Linked DNA regions of Homo sapiens: region 2 is linked to region 1. The links come from fine-mapping of genetic effects on gene expression. A gene starts in region 1. The other region holds a variant in brackets. All regions are shown on one strand. Distances are from middle to middle.

Region 1 (4,390 bases):
AGCCAGTGGATCACTTGAGGTCAGGAGTTTGAGACCAGCTTGGCCAACATGGGGAAACTCCATCTCTACTAAAAATACAAAAATTAGCTGGGCATGGTGGTGGGTACCAGTAGTCCCAACTACTCAGGAGGCTGAGGCAGAAGAATCGTTTGAACCCAGGAGGTGGAAGTTGCAGTGAGCCAAGATCATACCACTGCACTCCAGCCTGAGTGACAGAGTGAGACTCCAAAAAAAAAAAAAAAAAAAAAAGCCAGACTTCCATCACTTGTCTGAAAATTATCTGTTTAAGTGCGTTTTTCTCGAGTCCATAACTTTTCAGCAATCTACCATAGACCCCTGAGACCAAATCCAAATGTATGCCTCACCTAATGCTAAGTTAGGAGGGGAAAAGGAGACTCAGTTCCCCATCCCTTAAACAGGCGAGACCAGCCGGGCATGGTGTCTCACGCCTGTAATCCCAGCACTTTGGGAGGCCAAGGTGGGCGGATCATGAGGTCAGGAGATCGAGACCATCCTGGCTAACACGGTGAAACCCCGTCTCTACTAAAAATACAAAAAAAAAAAAAAAAAATTAGCCGGGCGTAGTGGCGGGCGCCTGTAGTCCCAGCTACTCGGGAGGCTGAGGCAGGAGAACGGCGTGAACCCGGGAGGCAGAGCTTGCAGTGAGCCGAGTGAGCCACTGCACTCCAGCCTGGGGGACAGAGCGATACTCCGTCTCAAATAAATAAATTAATAAATAAATAAATGAAATAAACAGGCGAGACCAAAGTCAACTCAGAGAAGCTTTAATAGCAAGAGGTGGGACTAGCCTCCTGGCCCGGGAGAGAGCGGCGGCGGCGGCGCCGTTCAACTGCGGCAGCAGAATAAGCGCGCGTCGTTCAGCGCAGTGTCATCGCCGAGGCCTCTAGGTCCCTGGATCTTGGTCTGCAGGCCGCACGCGCCCTTGGGGCAATGGTCACTCCAGTCTCCAAAGTCTCCCCAGCTCAGCCCAGGCCCCTGCAGTTCCTCGCCGTCTGAACAGCGGAAGCGCACGTTGTTCGCTGCTGTGTTGTCACCGAGGGTCGTGGGTGCCTCCACGCGAAGCGAGAAAGCCACTAGGTAGGCGCCGCCGCGACACCACAGCGGCTCACTCCATTCGCCCCAGCTGCAAGGCAAAGGGAGATGCGTTGCCTCTGCGGGCCCCCCATTCACCAAGCCCTTGAGACTTTCCAAGCCAAGTGCTGTGTATATGACCTGGTGGGCTGGGTGCTCCCCGACCTCCGCCGAGGAGCGGAGGAGGGGTCTTCCATCCACCCTTCGCCTCCCCGGTCTATACTGCCCCGTAGCTCTGGCGGAGCCAGCCTGCCTGTTGCGACGGAGTATGTAATAGAGGGTAAGGGACATACCATCACCCCAAGGGATCCTCGACCCCTGCGCCCCACCTTCCAGACTGGGACTCTACCACGTGCGTATTGCCTAGGACGTTCCCGCGCGCGCAGTGCAGCCTGATCCCATTCAGTGCAGTGTCGTCGCCAGGAATGCCTTGGGGAGGCTCCACCTGGGTATCGAGGAGAGGGGCAAGGGCGAGTCACGGAATTATCATCCTTGGCTCTATGGTCCCACGCATCTCCGCCCTCTCCAGGACCTACGCCTGAGCCCCAACCTTGAGCGAGAACCCGCTGGCGAAGAATCCATCGGGACACATCTCAGGCCAGGCCCAGTCGCCCCAGGGACCCCCGCTGGTCACTTCGATGACCGCCGTGTAGCCGTTCCGGCCATCTGTCTGTGCACATGTGAAACCAGTCGCCCGCAGAAGCAGCAGCAGCGGCAGCAGCTTGGCTCCTGCGCCCCGCTCCATCCTGTAGCGTCTGTGAATCAGGCCTCCTAAGCAGATTTATATCAGTTTGGCCTCTGTGAGGGCTCCGATTGCGGAAGGGCCTCCCAGATTAAGTGAAACCCAAAACTAATCCACTCCCGGAACCCTATTTCCTGCTCCCGGAGGCAGAGGCTCCCAGAGCTAGGGTAGGAGGGGCAGTGAGAGAGGGCGAATTAAAATAACCATCACCTACTGAATATTTACTATAGGCTACGAATTATGGTTAGCGCTTTGCAGTATTTTGTTTAACCCTCACAACAATTTTTGGGGGGTGAGAATTATCCTTCCTATTTTGTAGATGAGGGAACTGGCTCAAAAATGGCAAGCAACTTGCCTTAGGTTTACAGCCAAGCAAGCTGGGAAACATTCCAGCAGTGAGAGTGGAGACAGAGCAGAGACCAGGGCTAGGGATGGAAGTGACCTCCCGGGAGTCCCACCAGTGACGGGATGGGGCAAGAGCAACCCAGAGACCTCCAGGATGTGAGGGGACATCAGAGTGAGGATAGGACAAGAATCCTCGAACTGGAGAAGCTGAGAAAACTCCTGTCAGCTCAGAAGTCTCTTCCTCCTCTGAGAGGTCTTCTGAGAGCTCAGGGCCCTAACACCTTGAGAATCCGGGACACTCCTCCCTACCTTAGAAGAAGACATATACAAACAGAAATAATTCTTTTTTATTTTTATTTTTTGAGTCGAAGTCTCACTCTGTCGCCCAGTGGCGGCATCGCAGTGGCGCGATCTCGGCTCACTGCTACCTCCACCTCCTGGGTTCAAGCGATTCTCCTGCCTCAGCCTCCCGAGTAGCTGGGACTACAGGCGCGCGCCAAGACGCCGCCCCGCTAATTTTTGTATTTTTAGTAGAGACCGGGTTTCACCGTGTTGGCCAGGATGGTCTCTATCTCTTGACCTTGTGATCCGCCTGCCTCGGCCTCCCAAAGTGCTGGGATTACAGGCATGAGCCACCGCGCCCGGTCCAACAGGAATAACTCTAAGAAGTTTGGGGACAGGAGACTAAGAACCCCTAAGAAAAGATCATGCTGTTTCTTCCATTGCTTTCTGTATCCTTATATCCTTTCCTGGAATGCCTTTCCCCCTGTGACCACCAGATGGACTCCTAATTTGCAAAACAAAAAGCGAGAAAATCTGGCTAAGTATGTTTTTTGTTTGTTTGTTTGTTTGTTTGTTTTGAGACGAAGTCTCACTCTGTTGCCCAGGTTGGAGTGCAGTGACGCCATCTCGGCTCACTGCAACCTCTGCCTCCCGGGTTCAAGCGATTCTCTTCCCTTAACCTCCCGAGTAGCTGGGATTATAGGCGTTCGCCACCACGCCCGGCTAATTTGTATATTTTTAGTAGAGACGGGGTGTTGCCATGTTAGCCAGGCTGACCTCAGGTGATCCGCCCACCTCGGCCTCCCAAAGTGCTGGGATTACAGGCGTGAGCCACCGTGCCTGGCCTAAAAATGCCTGGCTAAATTTGTTAGGGGCCACAACCCCAGATTTACCTGCCCCTCATACACACTCCTTTGTTTATTCAATACCTATTTAGCAATAATATGTTTTGGCTTAAGCAATATTCCACTTGCTGTAAGCAAGAATAACAAGGCCCCTGTCATCAGAGGTCACATTCCAGTGGGGGAGACAGAGGATAAATTCTCCCCCAGTGGACCTTGAGCTCTGTGAAGGCACTTTTGTATTCTTGAAGCCTAGTACGTGCGGAAGTACTTAATAAAAGTTGGTGCAATGAATGATTGAAGAGCCAATCTGGAGTTTTGAAAATTAAACCACAAAAATGCAAAAGGATAAAGCCTGACGTACGTATATGATTGCAAGAGGTCATGTATCCAGGTCAAGACAAAGTCCCCTGGGAATAAGATAGAGAATTTAGAAGTGGGTGTTCCCGGCTGGGCGCGGTGGTTTACGCCTGTAATCCCAGCACTTTGGGAGGCCAAGTTGGGCGGATCACAAGGTCAGGAGTTCGAGACCAGCCTGTCCAGTATGGTGAAACCCTGTCTCTACTAAAAATGTAAAAATTAGCCGGCACTTTCCAGCCTGGGCGACAGAGCGAGACTTTGTCTCAAAAAACAAAAAAACAAAAAACAAACAAAAAAAAAAAGAGAGCGAGAGAGAAGTGGGTGTTCCCTGGATCCCAGAGCCGGACAATGCTTGAACTTAATAAGATTTATAGGGCAATTGTGGTCAGCTTTTCCATTTAGTGTTTTCACATACGTTATCATTTAATCCTCACATGAGGCTTGCAAAGTACCTATTATTATCCTCAATTTACAGTGGAGGGAACTCAAGCCCAGAGTGAATTTAGGGCCCACACCACTGCTCAGTAGGGGAGCTGTTCTGGGCCCTGCCTCTCTTCCCAATACTCAGAGTGCCTCTTGCTACAGCTGGCCCTACAGGGAAGGGAAATGCACTGATCTGTCACTGCTGTCGAATCCCCCAAATTCCCTTCACCCAGTTCCTCGCACCCAGGGTAGCTGCCCTTTGGGGCGAAGGGCACAGGGGAAGGGGCCTTAGTAGGTTAATTAT
Region 2 (4,390 bases), 27 kb before region 1:
ATATTTGTTGAATGAGAGGCTAACTAATCAATCAACTTTATCATTGAGATTCTCTGTTTCTTTATACGTTTGTATATTTTTCTTACTTTGTCGAAGAGAATTATATTACAGTTTCCCACTACTATTATATTTCTGACAGTCTCCCTCGGCATTTCTAACTATTTGGGGTTTTTTTTCTTTTCTTTTTTTTTTTTTTTTTTTTTGAGACTGAGTGCCCTTTCTCATAAAACACCAACCACTTCCTCTATGGAAATAAATTTATTCCCAGTACCTTCTTGGGTCTTGCAAATATTACAGCCAAATGCATTTTTTTTTTTCTGGCATGTCAGTGTCTGCTCACTGTAGAGGAGGGTGAACAAGTTCTGGTCTCCTGATCTCCAGGAGTCTGAGCTAGGAGAAGGAAGAAGAGAGAAATGTCAAAGGGCTATATTTGCAGGGTTTCTATGGAAAAATCTGATTTCAAACAATCTTCATCATCTGAGATGGTTTCCCTTCTAATGACTCCATCTGGTCCTCACGTCGATCTTAGTTCTCAGGAGCTGATAACTCTGGCCTTGCCTTGCTCAGAGAGCATTCAACCCCCACTCCTCCCCAGGTCACATTGCCAAACACCTTCAGTGGCAATTCATGGGTCCTCAGAAAAGCATCACTCTCATTCCTGGTCTCCCTCCCTCCACTGCTCTCCTCTACAATCCCACCTCAGGTGATCCTCCCGCCTCGGCCTCCCAAAGTGCTGGCATTATAGGCATGAGCCACCGTGCCTAGCCCGGAATCTGCTTTTAACACCATCTTCAGGAAATCTGTATGAAGTTACGGTTTGAGAAGTACTGAACTAAGCAGACAGCCAAGTAAGAGCCCCTCCTGTCCAGGTCTAAGGGTAGTTCCGATTCCCTGACCAGCAAATCTTGAGTAGCTGCCTCCCAGTAGCTGCCTCCCAGTCACTCTCTACCACACCACCCTATTTCCTTCATGTAATTTAGCATAACCTCTAATTTCTAGTTTACTGCCTGTCTCCCCAAACTATAATATAAACTACGAAGAGGTACCTCATCTGTCAAGTTTAGTGCTGTATCCACTGGGTCCACAACTAGGCACATTACACAGAGGGTACTCGATCCTGCATTTCACTGACTTAAATACTTTCAAGTGTTATACATCATGCTTTTGTTTGTTTGTTTGTTTGTTTATTTTGAGACAGAGTCTGGCTCTGTCGCCCAGGCTGGAGTGCAGTGGCATCATCTTGGCTCACTACAGCCTCTGTCTCCTAGGTTCAAGCGATCCTCCTGCCTCAGTCTCCTGAGTGGCTGGGACTATAGGCGTGCACCACCATGCCCGGCTAATTTTTGTATTTTTAGGAGAGATGACATTTCACCATGTTGGTCCGGCTGGTCTCAAACTCCTGACCTCAAGTGATCCATCTGCCTCGGCCTCCCAAAGTGCTGGGATTGCAGGTGTGAGCCACAGCACCCGGCCAAACCATGATACAATGCTTTCTTAACACTTCAATTTTTATTTTATGCTAATTGAAGTCTCTTTCAGACCATTAAAAAATCTAATTCTGGTGCGTACACAAAAACAAAAATAATATGGTTAAAATATTCCAAAAAAATCTTTAAAGTCTGACTCTTCTGAATCACTTTCTATCAGTGCCTGTGTTGCTGTCCCCTCTACTGTCGAGGGCATTGGAGAAGCGGAATTTCTTTAAAAAGTGCTCCACTACTGTCTCCGAGATTTTCTTCTAAGCTAGTGACACATTCTTGTTTTACCAAATAG[T/C]GTCAACAAAATTGATGTCTTCACTAACAAATTTTCGCTCCACTACTTTATTTCTATGCTTAATACATCATTTCCTTTTGATTTCTGTTTTAAAGCATGTTATCTTTTTGAAGATTTTTTTTCTTAATAGCATTTATTTATTTATTTATTTATTTATTTATTTAGAGACACGCTTGCTGTCACCGAGGCTGGAGTGCAGTGGTGTTATCTCGGCTCACTGCAACCTCCGCCTCCTGGGTTCAAGCAATTCTCCTGCCTCAACCTCCGGAGTAACTGGGATTACAGGTGTACGTCACCATGCCTGGCTAATTTTTGTATTTGTAGTAGAGATGAGGTTTCGCCATGTTGTGCAGCCTGGTCTCAAACTCCTGACCTCAAGTGATCTGCCCGCCCCGGCCTCCCAAAGTGCTGGGATTACAGGCATGAGCCACCGCACCCGGCTGAATAGCCTTTATTTTTTAAAAGCAGTTTTAGGTTCACAGCAAAATTGAGCAGAAAGTACAGAGTTTTCTTTTCTTCTTCTTCTTTTTTTTTTTTTTTTTTTTTTTTTGTAGTTTTAGTAGAGATGGGGTTTCACCATGTTGCCCAGGCTGGCCTTGAACTCCTGACCTGAAGTGATCCGCCCGCCTCGGCCTCTCAAAGTGCTGGGATTACAGGCATGAGCCACTGTGCCTAGCCGAAAGTATAGTGTTTTCTTATACTCCTACCCCCACACATGCACAGCCTCCCCCACTATCAACATCCGGCACCAGAGTGATAGATTTGTTCCAATCAGTGAACTACATTGACACGTCATTATCAGCCAAAGTCCATCGCATAGTGTACATTAGGATTCGCTCTTGGTGTTGCACGTTCCATGGGTTTAGACAAATATATAATGACGCACCAGTATATATATAGTATCATACAAAGAAGTTTCACTGCCCTAAAATCCTCTGTGCTCTGTTTATTCCTCCTTCCCCTCCCTACCAACCCCTGGCTGCCACTGACCTTTTCACTGTCTTCAGAGTTCTGTTTTTTTCCAGAAAGTCATATACTTGTAGCCTTTTACTTTTTTTTTTTTTTCTCCCTTAAGATGGAGTTTCTTTCGCTCTTGTTGCCCAGGCTGGAGTGCAATGGCAAGATCTTGGCTCACCACAACCTCCGCCTCCCAGGTTCAAGTGATTCTCCTGCCCCAGCCTCCCAAGTATCTGGGATTACAGGCATGCACCACCATGCCCAGCTAATTTTGTATTTTTAGTAGAGTCTGGGTTTCTCCATGTTGAGGCTGGTCTCGAACTCCTGACCTCAGGTGATCCACCACCCTCAGCCTCCCAAAGTGCTGGGATTACAGGCGTGAGCCACCACGCCCGGCGGTTTTGGTTTATTATTATTATTATTATTTATTTATTTTTTTTAATAGAGACAGGGTTTCACCATGTTGTCCAGGCTAGTGTTGAACTCTTGGGCTCAAGGGATCTACCCACCTCAGCCTCCTAAAGTGCTGGGATTACAGGTGTGAGCCACCACACCTGGCCTTTTGTTTGTTTTTGTTAGAGACAGGGTCTTGCTCTGTCACCCAGGTTGGAGTGCAGTGGCACAATCACAGCTCACTGTAACTTGCAACTCCTGCCCTCAAGCAATCCTCCCGCTTCACCCTCCCAAAGCACTAGGATTACAGGCATGAGCCACCATGCCCAGCCCTACTGGAGCTTTGTAGTAAGTCTTGATGCTGGGTCGTGTCAATCTTCCAACTTTGCTCTCTTTCAATATTGTGTTGGCTATTCTGGGTCTTTCGCCCCTCCAGACAAACTTTAGAATCAGTTTGTAAATATCCATGAAATGGTTTTCTGGCATTTTGATTGGGATTGTGTTGAAGATACAGATCAATTTGGAAAGAACTGACATCTTGACAATGTTGAGTGTTCCTATATATGAACATGGACTCTCTCCATTTATTTATATCTTCTTCGATGTCTTTCATCAGAGTTTTGTAGTTTTCTTCATGTAGATCTTATACGTATTTTGTTAGATTTATATGTAAGTATTTAATTTGGGACAGTGCTAATGTAATTGGTACTGTGTGTTATTTGAAGACATTATAAACAGCAATTCAACTCAAGAAGTGTAGTACCAGTAGGGTTCACAACTCAGCTGAGGTGATAACAATACGAACAGCTACGACTGGGTTCTCACAAGTGTAGGCAAAACCTACCATGTTGTATGACACCATGGATTGTACAATATATCCTAATTTTGGGAAAAATAAAATGTGCTAAAACACGTGACTTAGAATTGATTGGCCAGGTGCAGTGGCTCACACCTGTAATCCCAGCACTTTGGGAGGCCGAGGCGGGCAGATCACTGGAGGCCAGAAGTTCGAGACCAGCCTGGCCAACATGGTGAAACCCCATCTCTACTAAAAATACAAAAAATTAGCCAGGCGTGGTGACACATGGCTGTAGTCCCAACTACTCAGGAGGCTGAGGTTTTAGTGAGCCAAGATCACACCACTGCTGTACTATAGCCTGCGTGACAGAGTAAGATTCTGTATCAAAAAAAAAATTTGAAATATGCTAAATATTTAACAAATAGGCCAAGCAGGTGGCTCACACCTGTAATCACAACACTTTGGGAG

Evidence for each region. PIP is the estimated chance that this variant, and not a neighbour inherited with it, causes the effect. A credible set is the group of variants that fine-mapping cannot tell apart.
Region 2: its variant is the best candidate, but not a certain one, in a credible set for the expression of VMO1 in monocytes after R848 (Quach 2016, PIP 0.64).

Annotation. Positions count from the first base shown.
Region 1 is chr17:4,784,516-4,788,905 of GRCh38, forward strand. VMO1 (vitelline membrane outer layer 1 homolog) reads right to left here and starts at 1,849. Exons shown (of 3, transcript NM_182566.3): 1 at 1,643-1,849; 2 at 1,422-1,537; 3 at 770-1,144. The coding sequence starts at 1,837. The coding sequence ends at 847.
Region 2 is chr17:4,757,415-4,761,804 of GRCh38, forward strand. No RefSeq gene overlaps it. Among named protein-coding and RNA genes, the nearest start is that of TM4SF5, 12 kb to the right of the region's middle. The variant T/C (reference allele first, on the strand shown) is at 1,774.